Linked DNA regions of Homo sapiens: region 2 is linked to region 1. Evidence: fine-mapped expression QTL. A gene starts in region 1. The other region holds a variant in brackets. All regions are shown on one strand. Distances are between the middles of the regions.

Evidence for each region. PIP is the estimated chance that this variant, and not a neighbour inherited with it, causes the effect.
Region 2: its variant is fine-mapped to the expression of RBM19 in cerebellum (GTEx, PIP above 0.99). The same link has a PIP of 0.9 or more in cerebellar hemisphere, prefrontal cortex, spinal cord and whole blood.

The regions. Positions count from the first base shown.
Region 1 is chr12:113,961,707-113,970,038 of GRCh38, forward strand. RBM19 (RNA binding motif protein 19) reads right to left here and starts at 4,619. Exons shown (of 24, transcript NM_016196.4): 1 at 4,486-4,619; 2 at 526-708. The coding sequence starts at 4,521. RefSeq lists enhancers at 831-880, 1,021-1,070, 3,041-3,969, 3,970-4,897, 4,856-4,925.
Region 2 is chr12:113,812,966-113,821,297 of GRCh38, forward strand. It overlaps a transcript of RBM19 not described here. Among named protein-coding and RNA genes, the nearest start is that of LINC01234, 43 kb to the left of the region's middle. RefSeq lists enhancers at 4,983-5,910, 5,911-6,836. The variant T/C (reference allele first, on the strand shown) is at 4,225.

The sequences.
Region 1 (8,332 bases):
TGGTCCGGCTATAGATCTTTGTTCTCCCACAGTCCCTGGGGCTCACCCTATCATAGCACTGATGTCACTGAGCCAAAGCAGCCTGCTGACCTGTCAGCCCCCTGCCTGCCCAGAGACAGCAGGCTCCATGAGGACAGGGGCTGAGGCATCACCTTTTTCTCTAAACTCCCAGCATCATTGAGTGCTTGCTAAATGCATGAGTGAATGGATGAGGTAGAGCTGTGGTTCTCAAGGTGTGGGCCTCAGACCAGCAGCATGGTCGTCACCTGAGGGCTTGTTGGATGTGTGAATTCTTGGGTCCTGACTCCATGCACTGAATCAGATGCTCTGGGGACGGGCCCAGGAAGCTGTTATAATAAGCTCTCAGGTGATTTGTATGCACATGAAAGTGTGTGAATCGGTGAGGAAGAAAACCAAAGACATCACAAAGTGAAGAGGGACGGTCTTTGAACTCAAGTGCTGAGTGAAAGATCAAACAACGTCACACTTGACAGGAAGGTAAGGGTGAGACTCCTGCCCACTCACTGTGATCCGGGATGTGTCGATGAAGCTCTTGTTGAAATGCTTCTGTGCCTTCTGGGCCTCTTCCTCGGACTTGAAGCCAATAAAACCAAACTTGCGGAACTTGCCATCTTTGGTGAACTTCAGGCTGCAGTCTGTCAGCGTGCCGAAGGCGGCAAACAGCTGCCTGAAACGCTCCTCCTTCATCTAGGACAGAGGGAAAGGAATGAGAGACGAACTGGAAAGTCCCCAGAGCAAGGGGACAAAATGGGCTGGAAACCTGAGGCCACGAGATTCTCCAAGGGTGGCCTTAGATGAAGAGGGGCAGAGTGTACTTTTCTAGTTACAACAGGTTCCAGCTCTGACTCTAGCACGAGTTGTGTGGCCTTGAGAAAGTCCCTTAACCACTCACTGATGTGGAAATCATGACTCATAATGGCTGCAAATGACATCTTCCTACCCTATGGGGCTCCTATGAGGATAAGACCAATTACAGAAGCAGTATTACGTCTGCTACATAGTAGATACCTAATAAATACTTGTAGGAATAAATGAAAGAATGAACAGGCATGGTAAGCTATATATATCTTTGTTAATAAAGCCCCCCCAAAAGATGCCCACATCCTAATCCCTGGAAACTGTGGATATGTTACCTTACAAGGCAAAAGGGACTTGTCAGGTGTGACTGATATGGAGATGGGGAGATGATCTGGATTATGCAGCCAGGTCCAATGTCACCTCAAGGGTCCTTATGAGAGGGAGGCGGGAAGATCAGAGAAGATGGAAACAGAAAGATTGGAAGATGCTATGCTATTGGCTCCAAATATGGAGTATATAGCTATGAACCAAGGAAGGCAGGTGCTTCTAGAAGCTGAAAAAAGGCAAAGGGACAGATATTCCCACAGAGCTTCCAGAAGGACTGCAGCCCTGCCAAAGCCTTGATTTTAGGATTTCTGACCTGCAAAACTGTAAGATAAGGATTGTCTGGATTGTTTAAGCCACTAAGTTTGTGCTAATTTGCTATAGCTGCACTAAAAAACTAACACACTATTATTATAATTTGGTCAAGAAGCCCCACACTATGGAAAACAGGCTCCTGGCTTCTCACCATCTTCACTGCAGCCAGGCTACCCTCACAACTCAGTTTTCTAAGCAGATACTGGGATATTTGTGTGTGTGGTAGTGGAGTTGAGGGGACATTCAGGGCCCCACGAACAGCCAAAATAAGTTTGAAAATGCAAGAAGCTAGAGGCCTTGGCAGTCCAGCCAGAAGATGACATTTTCTGAGGTAGCTTCTTACTAACTGATCTAATCAAAATCTCAATCACACTGTGAGTTAGGAATTTTTGTCCACATTTTATAGAGAAAATGAAACTCATAAGGGATAAATGATCTGCCCAAGGCCTACAGAATCAAGGTTTGTGACTCAATTCAGAAATATAAGACAGTGAATTCAATTCCTCAGTGCCTGGGAGAGACCTGGCTCAAGTCTGAATCCATCATTCCTTTGCCAAAAACCTTTCGGTGACTTTCTGGCACCAAAGTCTCAAGGACGAGCACCTAAAGGAAAACATGCAATTCTTCAAGATCTGCCCTGACCAACCTCTTCAGCACCACGCTTTGACAAATTTCTCACAGCCTTCTCACTTCCGAGGTTTTACTTTGGTTGTCCCCTCTGGGTGATATTTCCCAAGACAGGCCCTGGCTAACTCCTCATTCTCAGTTCAATCATCTCCTATTCCAGGAGGCCTTTCTTAGATGCCTTAGATGGACGAGATAACCAACCCTCACTGTGCTCCCACAGCACTCGGTTCACATGTCAGTGATGCACCTTGCATCGTAATGATCTGGTGCCTCTCTTTTCTGCTAGCCTGCAAGTCCCATTAAAAATAAGGACACAGGCTTATCCACCTCTATCTACAGTGTCAGCAATATCACAAGTACTCACTACTAATTATTTCCTCAATTCAATCCCTAAACTAAAGATTGCTCAATTCAATCCCTGCTCTATAAATTACACCAGTGTGTGACCTCAGGCAAATCCCTGTACCTCGCTGTATCTTGGTTTCTTTACCTTTAAAATGGGCGTAAAAATAAAACTTACCTCACAGGGATATGGTGAGGATTAAATGTTACTTTACCTAAAGCACCTGGAACAGTGCCTGGCACACAGTAAACTCTCCAAGTGTCAGCTGCAACTGCCCTTGTTTTTATTATTCTTTCATTCATGAGATAAGACAAACAATGATAAGAGAGTCAACTACACTGTGAAGTGCAACAAAGCTGAATTTGGGAAGAAAAGGAAGTGCAGCCACGCTAAAAATCCTCATCGCACAAAGCAAGGCATCAAGAGACATGTCTAACCTGATGGATGGATGAGTAATAGATATTTTTAAGTATACTACTCAGAGATTATAACAGGATAATTAAAAACAAGAATATTACAGACACTGGAGAGGAGGAACAGATGATCTAAATTCCTTATTTTTCACAGTTGAGGCCTAGCAGATAGTCACTGGGGCAGGCAGGTCAAAAGGAGGAAAGTACACTCCTCAAATATACAGAGATACATGTGAGGAGTCCCAAAAACAAATCAATGAAGATGGTTACTCCTGGACAGAGAGGGAAGGTAGGACAGAGCAAAGACTTTGCTACTCATGTTATACACTACTATACTGTTTGAATTTTGAAAACTGTGTGTTACAAAGTTCCTTTGTCCCACCTGACAAATGAAAAAAAAAAAAGGAAAGGAAAAAACTCACAACATTAGAACAGAAATGGGGGCCAGGTGCAGTGGCTCACGCCTGTAATCCCAGCACTTTGGGAGGCCGAGGCGGTGGATCACCTGAGGTCAGGAGTTCGAGACCAACTTGTCCAACATGGCGAAACCCCATGTCTCTACTAAAAATAAAAAAATTAGTCGGGCTTGGTGGCGCGTGTCTGTAGTCCCAGCTACTTGGGAGGCTGAGGCAGGAGCATCGCTAGAACCCGGGAGGCAAAAGTTGCAGTGAGCCGAGACTGCCGAGATTGCTCCACCGCAGTCCAGCCTGGGAGACAGAGCCAGACTCCGTTTAAAAAAAAAAAACAAAAAAAGAAAAAAACAAAAAACAAAACCAAAAAAAGCCATGAAAGAGAGAGAAAAAAAAGAGATAAGACAAACAATGATAAGAGAATCAACTACACTTGAAACACAACAAAGCTGAATTTGGGAGGGAAAGGAAGTGCAGCTACGCTAAAAATCCTCATCCCACAAAGCGAGGCATCAAGAGACACTGTCTAACCTGATGGAAGGAGCAGTAATCCATTTAAAAACAAAAAAACAAAACAGAACAAAAAACAGCGAGAGAGAGAAAAAAGGATGATCCATTCGAGCCCACCGCATCTAATCATCTAATATTACGTACATTCACCTATTTTGCCTACCACGTGTCGGGTTCTGCGCTGGGCTCCAGGGAAACAAAAAAGTATGGCTGGGTCACCACTCCCCACTTACTGGATAAATGCTGTAAAGCCCTTTACCCACTCCGTATTCCTACTTGCCCTAAGGATGGGAGTGGGAATTGGAACGCAGGTCCGCAGATTAATATTCCCCATGTCTTCCCCAACAGTTTCCAGACTGGGAGAGGAATATAAATACAGTGTCGGACCATGTCCCGGGTCAACAACTAAAAAACAGTGATCGAATGAAAGAGGTTGTGGGAGCAGGGTATTCGCCACAAGGTGGGAGTTGTCATCTCCCCGAGAAGAGGTGTGTTAGGAGTCAGGTACCAAACAACCGGCCGTGAAACCGTAAGCAGTCACTATTCCTCTTTCCTCGGGATCAAATGGGGATAAGCCCAGGATCCCGCCCCCTTTGAGTTCAGAATTGGCCCGGAGTCCTGCCCCAGAGCAAAAATTCTTCGATCACCTCCAGGCATCTCTTCCCTACCTCACAGCTCCCGGCTGGTCTCATTTCAGATTCCCAAGTCCTGCCTCTGCACTCACCCCATTCGGGAGATTCTTCACGATCAGTCGCGACATGGCGCAGGGTCCCCGCTGTTTTGATTCCAACACGACTGGTCAGCGTCTTCCACCAAGTTTCACGCTACCGCCCTGGGCGCCGCCATCTTTACCGAGCCGGAACACAGTCACGTGGCTGAGACCTTGGCCTGACCTGTCCGGAAGTAGGCGTGGCTAATCCAAAACTACTCAGGGAGGTCACACCCCACAAGGGGTGGGCCTGGGCGCTTGCATTTTGCGCAGGCGCAGGGCCTTGGGCGGATTCTGTGAGACGCCAATGCAGCGGAGAAGGCGGCAGGGGGCGCCGGTCCCTAACATGCGCCGGTTTAGCTCGGTGTTAAGGGTCGCGCCAACCGGGCAATCGCGTTCTCTCCTTTTTCTTATTTTATTTTTATTATTGAGCCTTAGGACTCCCCTGAGAACGGGGGCAAGATTAGGGACCCTTGCCTTCCTCGTAGAAATGGGGAAAGTGAAGTTTAGAGAGATTGCCAGCCAACACAAATCAAGTATTGAGCCTTTTGTGTAAATACTTGGAATGAACATGTTGGAAATAAACGCTCTCATTTTGCAGGCAGATAAACTGGGAATCGTGCGTGTAAAGCAGCTTGCTCAAAGTCTTATAACTATGAATTGGAAAGTCAGATTCGAGCTAGGGACTGCCTAGGGCCCTACAATGAGTCTCTACGCCTTCAACCCCAGCCCCACAAGCATTTTGCCTCCCTTCCTAATGTTTGGAACTCTCAGCTGGCCAATCTTCTAGCTGAGAGATCTTGGCCAAAATGGCCTCTGAGCCTTTGTGTCTACTTCTATAAAATGGGAATAATTCTTTATTATGCTAGGGGTTAAGGAGGTGAGAACGTGAAAGGGATGTTATTTTCCTATTGCTTCTCTGAGCATTCTCGGTACCTACTCTTGGATGGAGACATCCTATGAAAACCCCTATTTTCACTCTTAAATGACGGTATTTCCTTTCTGTTTCCCCACAGTGCCTCAGCTGCACTGGACGTTGCTGCCAAGCTTCTGCAATTTCCTTCACCTAAAAGACATTCCGTCCCCCCTTCTTATTGTTAACAGCTTTATCACAAACCATGCAATTCACCCACTTAAAGTGCACAATTCAATGGTGCTGACTATATTTACAGAGGTGTGCAGCCATCACCACAATCAATGCTAGGACATTTTCATTACCCCCAAAGAAACACCACACCCTTTAGCTATAACCTTCCAATTCCTCCCTCTCCCTTCCCTCTGATAACCACTAATCTACTTTCCGTCTCTATGGATTTGTCTGTTATGGACATTTCATGTAAATGGAATAATACAATATGTAGTCTTTTGTAATTGACTTCTTTCACTTAGCATAATGTTTTCAAAGTTCTTCCATGTTGCAGCATGAATCAGCACTTTATTTATCTGTTTATTTATTTGAGACAGGGTCGGGCTCTGTCACCCCGACTGGAGTGCAGTGGCACAATCTCAGCTCACTGCAACCTCCGCCTCCCAGGCTCAAGCCATCCTCCCACCTCAGCCTCCTGAGCAGCTGGGACTACAGGCACATGCCACCATGCCTGGCTAATTTTTTTTTTTTGGTAATTTTTTGGTAGAGGCGAGGTTTCAACATGTTGCCCAGGCTGGTCTTGAACTCCTGGGCTCAAGCAATCCACCTGCCTTGAACTTTCAAAGTGCTGGGATTACAGACGTGAGCCACCACACTTTTTTTGCTGAATAGTATTACATATATGGATGTATTACATTTTATTTATTCATCAGTTGATGATGGACATTTGGGTTGTTTCCGCTTTGTGGCTACTGTGAATAATCTTGCCGTGAACATTTACCTGTAAGTTCCTGTGTGGGCATATGTTCTTATTTCTCTTGGATATATTCCTAGGAGTAGGATTGCCTGATCATATGGTAACTCTATGCTTAACCTTTTTAGAACCTGCTAACCTGTTATCCAAAGTGGCTTCCCCATTTTATATTCCTACCAGCGGTATATGAAGGTTCAAATATCTCCACATCTCCTCCAGTGTTTGTTATTGGGTCTTTATAATCATAGCCACTCTAGTGGGTGTACAGTGGTGACTCAATGTTTTGATTTGCATTTCCCCGATAACTAATGAAACAGCATCTTTCATGTGCTTTTGGCCACTGGAATATCTTTCTGAACCCATTCCCATCCCCTCTCTAAGACCAGCTCAAACATGGCATCCTCGAATATGCCTCTTTCCTACTGAGCCCCAAATGCAGGGAGCTCATGCATCTGCCACAGCATAAACCTACAGAACTCGCTGGTGAGGAGCGCACAGTGTAGGTTCAGAGTTATAGATGAGGCCACTTGTTCTTTCTACATTATGTTGCCATAGGGGCATCCTTAGATCCATCTTTGCAAAGCATCACACTGGGCACCAGGAGGAGACAGGTAATAGGAGTTCATTAAATGCTAATTGTAAATTAAGGTCTGTCCATTCAACAGAATTCTATGCAGTTGTTAAAAAACGGTAGGTATGTAGCTATAAATGTTTTTGAAGGAAATGCATCAGTCAGCAGGACACAGAGGTATACTCAAAAGGATTTAACAAAAGCAAATCTGGACAAAAAGCTATTTACAGAAGGGTGGGCAGTGTAGTGGGATGAATGATCCCCTGTCCCCTCACCACCACACACACTGGGGGCATCCTGACCCCTGGAAGCTGTAAATGTGACTTTATTTGCAAAAAAGTGTTGTATTAGTTTGTTCTCACGCTGCTAATGAAGACATACCTGAGACTGGGTAATTTATAAAGGAAAGAGATTTAATGGACTCACAGTTCCACATGGCTGGGGAGGCCTCACAATCATGGTGGAAGAGCAAGGGATGTCTTACCTGGTGGCAGGCAAAGAGAGAATGAGAACCAAGTGAAAGGCTTTCCCCTTATAAAACCATCAGATCTCGTGAGACTTATTCACTACCACGAAAACAGTATGGGGAAACCACCCCCATAATTCAATTATCTCCCACTGGGTCCCTCCCAGGACACGTGGGGATTATGGGAGCTACAATTCAAGATGAGATTTGGTGGGGACACAGCCAAACCATATCAAGGGTCTTTGCAAATGTACTTAAGGGTCTCAAAATGAGATCATCCTGAATTATCCTGGTAGACCCTAAATCCAATGACACATGTCCTTTTAAAGGACACACAGAGAACGTCATGTGTAGGTGGAGGTAGAGTCTGGAGTGATGCAGTCACAAGTCAACGAAGACCTGGAGCCACCAGAAGCTGAAAGAAGCAAGGAAGCGTTCTCCCTTGGAGGTTTTGGAGGGAGCATGGCCCTGCTGGTGCTTTGGGGGATTCTGGCCTCCAGAAATGTGAGAGAATAACTTTGCATTGTTATGCCATCTAATTTGTGGTAATTTGAGACAGCACCTGCAGCAAATGAATACAGGAAGGGTTAAGGGAACCAACAAAGGATGGCCAAACCCCAGGGCCTGGCAACAGTGGGGAGCTATCACCACCCCTGGGGCTGAAGGGCAGAGTAGGACATGTCATTCCTGAGCTTCAGTGATGCCAGGAGCCATGGAAGAGGGACGTACTTTAAGGACTAGAGCTATAGAGAGATACAGCCACTGTGGAACCACAGGTGTGTGTGTGTCGGGGATAAATACACTGTCCCCTCTTTCTCTTCCCAACTGCAGTTTCCTACTGGAGCCTCCCCTTGGCCGAACCAATGGGAAGCTGGAGGCATGATCACAGATGTTGCAGTGCACACAGATTGCATCTGGGGCACAGAGCAAAGTGGAGGAGCAGGCTCAGGGAATGGGAGATGGGCTGTTAGAGAAGAACTAGCA
Region 2 (8,332 bases), 150 kb before region 1:
AGGTTGCTCAAGGTCACATTGTGGCTAAGTGGCAAAGTAGTAAAGAAGGGGTATGAATGATTGAAATCAGGGGTCGCCAAACCACAGCTCGTTTTTCTTTTTCCTGCTACTGTTGCCTGGTCTTGTCAATAAAGTTTTACTCAGCACATGTGCCGAGGCAGCATAGCAGAGGTGAAAGAGCCGGAACGGGGAATTCTGCCACAGTGTGACCTTGTAGAAGACACTCTGGGCTTTCTAATCTGTAAAATGATGGGGGTTTGCTTTAGATCGGGGTCACTGCACTTGATGCAAAGGGCCAGATGGTAAATATTTTAGGCTTTGCAGGTCATAAGGTCTCTGTTGCTACTCAACTCTGTTACATGCAGCAACTATTGACAATATGTAAACTAATGGGCATGGCTGTATTCCAATAAAACTTTATTCACAAAACCAGGCAACAGCAGCACAAAAAAAAAAAAAAAAAAAGAGGGCCATGGTTTGCCAACCCCTGATTTTGATCATTCACGTCGCTTCTTTACTACTTTGCCTCACGAAATTCATGTTTTTAATACTTTTCTTTATACGAATTCACCGGTATTCCTTAGAGCTTAGCAACACCATAGGTTTGATGACCTAAACAAATACAGGTTTGTATTTGTGGCATACATGTGAAAATAAACTTGTGAGTTAAAAATTAAAAAGAAAAGTGTGTGGGCCACCTAAACCATCTCCTGAAGCACAGAGGTCCGTGCTCTGTGCTTTGGGAGACATTTTTTAGTTCAATATATTTTTTTTCGAGATGGAGTCTCACTCTGTTGTCCAGGCTGGAGAGCAGTGGCACGATCTCGGCTCACTGCAACCTCTACCTCCCGGGTTCAAGTGATTCTCCTGCCTCAGCCTCCCGAGTAGCTGGGACTACAGGCACGTGCCACCATGCCCGGCTAATTTTTTATATTTTTAGTAGAGATGGGGTTTCACCATGTTAGCCAGGATGGTCTCCATCTCCTGACTTTGCGATGACCCACCTTGGCCTCCCAAAGTGCTGGGATTACAGGCGTAAGCCACCGCGCCAGGCCTAGGTCAGTGTTTTTCAAATCACTGAGGTGTTGAGGGGGAAGAGGAGTCTGGGTGGGGGAGGTCAGGCCTGTACCCTGACTTGGAACAAAGCAGTTTTGCTTAATCTGTTTAAGACATTTGTTTGGGAAACGGGTTCTGGGGCCAAAGGAGTTTGGAACCATCTAGAAGTGGCTTCAAAATGAACTTGAGGCCTGTGCAGTGGCTCATGCCTGTAATCCCAGCACTTTGGGAGGACGAGGCAGGAGGATTATCTGAGGTCAGGAGTTCATGACCAGTCTGGCCAACATGGCAAAACCTCACCTCTACTAAAGATACAAAACTTAGCCAGGCATAGTGGTGCATGCCTGTAATCTCAGCTACTTGGGAGGATGAAGTGGGAGGACTGCTTGAACCCAGAGAGGCAGGGGCTGCAGTGAGCCAAGATCGCGCCACTGCACTCCAGGCTGGGCGACAGAGTGAGACTCCATCTCAAAAAAAAAAAAAATAAAATAAAAAAATTAACTTGAAGCATTGAAGCTATGAGATTTCCCAGGTCTGTCTACACGGGGCTGTTAGTTCCCATGCTGACTCTTAGATTTCTTTTTTTTTCCCTTTTTTTTTGGGAGACAGCATCTCACTCCATTGCCCAGGCTGGAGTGCGATGGTGTGATCATGGCTCACTGCAGCCTCGACCTCCTGGGCTCAAGTGATCCTCCCACCTCAGCCTCCTGAGTAGCTGGGACCACAGGCCCACACTACCACAGCCGGCTAATGTTAAAAATTATTTGTAGAGATGGGGTCTCCCTATGTTGCCCAGGCTGGTCTCGAACTCCTGGCCTCAAAGCGATCCTCCCACCTCAGCCTCCCAAAGTGCCGGGATTACAGGAGTGAAGCACCGAGGCTGGCCCCTTTTAGATTTCTTAACCAAAGAAGGATAATTTCCTGTTATACCTCGGTCCAACCCTCTCTCCTCAACCTGAGACACGTATCCTCCGGTGTGTTCTCCACCTCTTAGCAGTCAACAGCTTACCGAGTTTAAAGCCAGTTCCTGCTTCCCTCCAAGCCAGCTCTTCCTGCAATGGTCTCAGCGCACACTAGCTTCCTTCTTCCCACTGCTTGGGCTGGAGCCAGGGCGCTAGCCTTGGTTGTGCACACCCCACAGCCAAACCTTTAGGCCACTGGCTGCATTTTCAGTCTGTCTACAGGCTTGGGCCACCTCACCCCTCCACTGCCACCTCCCTGCTCTGAGTCACCACCTCCCTGCTCTCCTGGCCACTGCAATGGCTTCTGAACACCTGTCCCTGCTTCAGTCCTTGACCTTCTGCTATTGATCCTTAACATGGTGGCAGACTGGGCCGGCTCTGCTCCCCTCCACAGGCCCAGACTTGACACCCAAGCCTGAGCCGGGTTGGCAGGCCCCTGCCCACTCTCCCTGGCTTTTTCTGGGGCCCGGGCTGTCCCCCTCACTCTCCCTTGAGCACACAGAGCTGTCCCCTTCCTCCCAGCTCTGCTCACATGCCACCTCCTCAGGGAGCCCTTCCTTGACCCTGCCAGACATCCCCAGAGAGAATGGAGCCTCAGCAGTGCCAGGGAAGCAATCCTCCACCCACTCATGTCTGGGTCTCCCCACATTTGACTACCAGCTCCTCGAGGCCAGGGAGTCTTATCTGCTGTGTCAACTCCTGCATTCCCAGCATCATGGCCATGCCTGGTGCACATAAGCTCAACACACATTTGCTGGGTGTTTCAGGTTTGAACCTCTCCCTTGCGCTCCTGGTCTGTATGAGCCCTGGAGGATGAAGCCAAGGACTCAGTCCTTGGAAGCCAACTGTCCTGAAGGTGGTCTCAGGGCTGCCCCCATCATCCCACTCTACCCTGAAAACCTATGATGCCTGGTCAATGCCTGGCACTGTCTGTCCACAGCCATAATGAGCTGCCACGCATGCCCACTGGTCCGGCACTGATGGCATTTGATATTTAAAAACAAAACAAAAAACACACTAGGGGTTCCATGGCAAGCAGGAGCTGAATAGGAGAATCTCACTGGGGGTGAGGAGAGAGAGCCCTTCACCCACACCGCCTTGAGGACAGGGCTCGAGTCGGCACACATTGGGCCTGCTCTTGCTGCCTTGAGGATAAGGCTCGAGCTGGCACACATTGGGCCTGCCCTCGCTGTAAAGAGGAGACAGCAGTTCAGGCCCTGCAGCAGGAGCGAGAGCACAGGGTGTGCCTCTGAAACCCAGCATAGGGCCGGGCCCCCTGCATGTGGGAACTGCCCTCACTGCTCTGGGGAGGTAGGGGCTTGGGCTTGTGCCAGAGCGAGCTGAGTGTGAGCCTGGTGGCAGCCCTCTGTGCAGCGCCATCTTGGGAATGTCACCCACCTCTCCATTTCTACATCTCCCATCAACTTACCTCTCACAGTTGCTAAAAGGACAAAGTGGGGCCACTGATTCCTTCCTCGAGTATTTACTAAGCATCTACTCCACGATGCAGCACGCACAAAATGGGCACAGACCTTGCTCTCCTGGGACTTCCGGTCCAGAGAGAGAGGTCAGACATGAAATAAAAACACAGAAACTGTTCACAGCTGTAAGGAGCTAGGGAGGTGTTCGGTGTGACGAGTGAATCTAACGAGGGGCCGGGGCTTGTCTAGGATGGGGCTTGGGAAAGTCATCTAGGCAAGGTGACTATTTCAATGGCCTAGGCGGCATGGGTGAATAAATTATTATTATGCAAGCATTCTATTAATCTTTTATTATTAAGACGGCTGAAAAAAATGATTACATATTATTAGTGAAGCTCAGTGGAAGAGAAGTGGGTGGAAAAGCTCTAACCCGAGAGGCCGCTTTCACAGGATGGGAGGATGGGTTACATTTTGCAAGGTGTACCAAAGGGTTAAAGTCATTTTCATTAAAATTTAAATTTCAGCATGCGCTCACTCTCCCTTCCCCGTCCTTTGAACGTTTGACTGGCAACCATTTCATATTTCAATCTCGGCAGAACAAATTGAATTAGATGTTGAAACCAAGCTCGGCTCTGTTCACCAAAGCCTGCGTGCTCTGCTCACACTAATCCTTTCCTAGACGCTGCGGAGCACAGACGGGCGCTGCGAGAGACGGCCCTGCACAAAAGACAAAAAAGACCAAGGCGGCAGGAAAAGGAGAGGAGGAAAAACAAGCGGGCAGAGGC[T/C]GCTGGAAATTGTCTTCCACCTGATGCATGGGGCTTAAAGCCTAGGAGACAGAGCCTGCGTCCACGCAGCAGGGAAGGCCAGTGTGGAGGCACACAGAGCGACCCGAGTTTCTGTCTTGTGTCTGGGGCACCCAGCACAGTGTCTCGCACACAGCAGATGCCCAGCAGGTGTCTGATGGATGAATGAATGAATGAATGAATGAATGAGGGAGAGGACTCACTCTATCAGCCCGTGCCTCTAGCCTGTGCCTGTTCCTCCCCTCTGCAGAGTGGGCCCGGCTATTCTCCTCACCCTCACAACTTCCTGAGAAGTGATAGCATGCTGCGCTCAGTGGCCTGGTGGCTCTCCAGTCCCCGTGCCCAGTGCAAACCAGCGGAGGATGCCAGCTCAAGTTTCTGGGGACGAAACAGGCAGACCTCCGGGCCTGGCTTGGGATCCCAGTGGCACCCCAGGATCACCCCATGTTCGCTGGCTCTTTCTTTAAACTGTGTAAGTCTGTGGAATGACCTAGAGGTGCTGACCCAGGGGCCCCGGAGTCTGGTTTTCAGAAGAGACAGTTCTGCTGCCGTGGCCATGGAGTCCTCACCCACTTGAGACCCCCCAGTTGAAAGGGTTAGGAACAGGCTGGGCATGGTGGCTCACACCTGTAATCTCAGCACTTTGGGAGAACAAGGTGGGTGGATCACTTGAGGTTGGGAGTTCAAGACCAGCCTGGCCCACATGGTGAAACCCTGTCTACTAAAAATACAAAAAATTAGCCGGGCGTGGTGGCTCACACCCGTAATCCCCACACTTTGGGAGGCCGAGGTAGGTGGATCACTTGAGGTCAGGAATTCGAGACCAGCCTGGTCTACATGGTGAAACCCAGTCTCTATGAAAAATACAAAATTAGCCGGGCGTGGTGGTGCATACCTGTAATCCCAGCCTTGGGAGGCTGAGGCGGGACAATCGCTTGAACCAGGGAGGTGAGCCCAGATCACGCCACTGCACTCCAGCCTGGGGAACAGAGCGAGACTTTGTCTCAAAAAAAAAAAAAAAAAAAAAAAAGAAAGGGTTAGGAACAGACACACAGACACAGCAATAGACAGGCAGCTGCTCCTGTGGGGGTGCTCACCTGTTTCCCCACAACCATTGGCCCATTTGGGCTTGAACTTTGGTTCTGTGCAGGAAGAGCCAGGTGCTGGTTTGCCTACTGGGGCCAGTGGGCAGGGGGGCACCTCCTACAGGCTCCTTCCTGGATCATAGGCTCCTCCCCAACATGGCGCAGCGCCCTGTGAGTCCCTATCCCGCCCCAGCCTCTGGACGTGGGCCCAGCTGGCCTGACATCTGCTGGGTGCAGCCCCACAAGCTTGCCTTGTTTTGAAGTTATGTTCACAATAATGATGGCAACTACCATTACTAAGTACTCACTAGGCATGACACAGTCTGCTAACTACTTTCCATTCATGACCTTCTGTTTCTGTCTTAACCAATCCAATGAGGCAGGAATTCCTGCACCCATTTGAAAGACATGGAACGCAAGGCCTGGAGACACTGAGAGCCTAGAGATTCTAACGCAGGCCTTTGGAGTCAGGGCCTGTGCATTCCGCTCTCCTCCTCCCGTCCCCACTGTCTCTCACTCCTGTCCCTCCTCCAGGCCCCACTGTCCCTCACCCCTGTCTGTTCTCCAGGACCTGTCTGACCACCCATCTCCCTCCTGCAGTCTGACTGTGTGTATCCTATAGTAGAGATGCCAGGGCCCTCCTCACCCATCCAGGGGTGGACCCTTGGTGGAGACGCCACGTGGGACAGAGGGAGAGGGCGGGATGCCTGGAGTTTCTCTTCTACCAGCCTTCCAGGCGCCCGCTAGTGCCCACTGCTGGCCAAACTGAACACAAGCCTCTTGATAAGGGAGTTTCAGAGACACAGCTCAAGGGGCCAGGCCCCTGAGACCCACAGCGGGTGGGAGACGGACGTGAGGACAGCAGATGCGGTTCCAGCCAGCCCTCCACTCTGGAAACAGCCTGTCCCCGTTCCTCCCAGCTAACTGAGCCACACTCTGAACACCGGGTCACAGGCCTCATCCAGATGTGTGCCTCTGGCTTTTCTGAGGCACGTGTCCTACTGACCTCCCACCTCCCTGTGTCCCTTTGGCCCCTCTGGCCTCTTGGTGTCACCTCTCCTTTCCTACGCAAGTGCTCTGGTCCAGCCTGTTATGGTTCTCTTTCCCGGCTCTCTGGTGACCATATCGGCAGGGAAGGGTCACAGCCCCCTGAGATGTGGCTGAGGCAGTTTCCTGCCCCCTGCAGCAGTCAGTCCTGAGCCGGGTCAGGAGGCTCACCGCCCTGGAGGAGTGCTCCCTCCTCAGTGCCACCTCTGTGGGTTATTTCTGGAGTTTCTCTCCCAGATCTTCTGGGTGTCTGTGTCTACCAACGTCCCATCATTGCTTCAAAAACAACCGAAGCCGCCTTTCAGAAAGCTCCCGTGTCCCCCTCCCAGTGACAGCGGTGACTCAGTCCCTTGCTGCCTTGGCTCAAAGGCTTAGAGTCTCCCAGTTCAACCCCCACATGCTGGATGGAGGAATTTCTCGTAAGACGCTTTCACCAGTCCCTCTTCTCCAAAGGAAGAAGAGATGAAGCCCCTCCTCTGGGCCAGGCAAATGACTTTTCCCGAGCTCCGCTTTATGGCTACCTGGCTGTACTTTACTGCATTCTAGAACAATGATGATGATTGTAACAAAAATCTTAATTGCTTTCCTAGTTCCCGTTTAAAACAGTTATTTTTGACAGGGTAAAAGGCTCTGGGTCACTGAGATCTTGCTCACACTCCAGGTTGTCCCCTGTACTGAGTGCTGTGACTGAGAGGGACAGGGGATGGGGGATAGGGGGTTGGGGCTGGGTGTAAAGAGGAGCTGGGTGTGGTTACTGCAGACGAACTGATCAGGAGTCTGTCTCCCTCAGTGAGGAAGCAGAAGTTAAACCGGGGCATCCAAACTTTTGGCTTCCCTGGGTCACCCTGGAAGAACTGTCTTGGACCACACATAAAATACAATAACACTAGTGATAACTGATGAACTAAAAAAAAAAAAAAAAATTGCAAATTTAAGGAAGTTTACAAATTTGTGTTGGGCTGCATTCAAAGCCCAAGCTTGGGTTGGACAAGCGTGATTTAAGATCTCAAAGGAAAATAAAAAGGCGCCACGCAGGAAGAATGTGAGGGAAGGGCATCCCAGGCAGAGGGAAGAGGCAGCTCGAGGGCCCTGGGGTGGGAGCCTGCAGGGAGGAAGGCCGGGACAGCGAGTGCAGGGTCAGGTGAGGTGGGGCCTCGGTGCTGGGGTGAGCAGCGGGACTCGACTTTCCATGCGTCAGGGAGGCCCTAGAGGGTTTGAAGCTGCAGACTGACATGATCCAGCTCACGGATCAGTCAGGCCACACTGGCTGCACGAGGACAGCTGAGCCGGAAGAGAGGAGATGAGGGTGCAGTCTGGTGGGCGCGGCATGAAGGGGCACCCTGAGATCTCTGTGGGAGTGGACTCCACTACTCCTGTGTGCTCACAGATCTGCCCCTTCCAAACAGTGCGTGCCTGGGGCAGGGGTGCAGGGGCCAGGCTCAGTATATGGCCTCTAGGCTGCCTCACTCCCCACTGCCAATTCCAGGCCAGGCCTGGCGAGTGGCTGGAAGCTCTCCCTCCTCTTGCTACCTTTCACTCTCCTGCAGTTCCTGAACCTTCCCCAGCTCACCAGCTTTCTTTTGGCCACAGGGAAGGCAGTGACGCAGGAAGGGTTGGACAGCCCTGATTCCCATCATTTCACTGTGTGAGCCCTGGCAGGGGCCTGCAGCTGCCTGGGCCTGATAACGCTTTTGTGACGGAGATGCTACTTGCATCACTCCATTTTAAAGATGAGGAGACTGAGGACTCAGCAGGTTAAGTCACTTGCCGAGGCTCACGAGGCTGGAGAGTGGTGGACTGTTACGGAGCCCAGGCAGATCCGAATACAGAGCCCATGTCTGCTCACCCCGCACCAAGCCCTGGATGATGCTGAATCCTGCTCTGGGGGGAGGTTCTAGAAGCATCCTCTGGGCCAGTTAAGTCAGTGCCAAAAGATGCCTGCCTCTGCACCAGGCCCG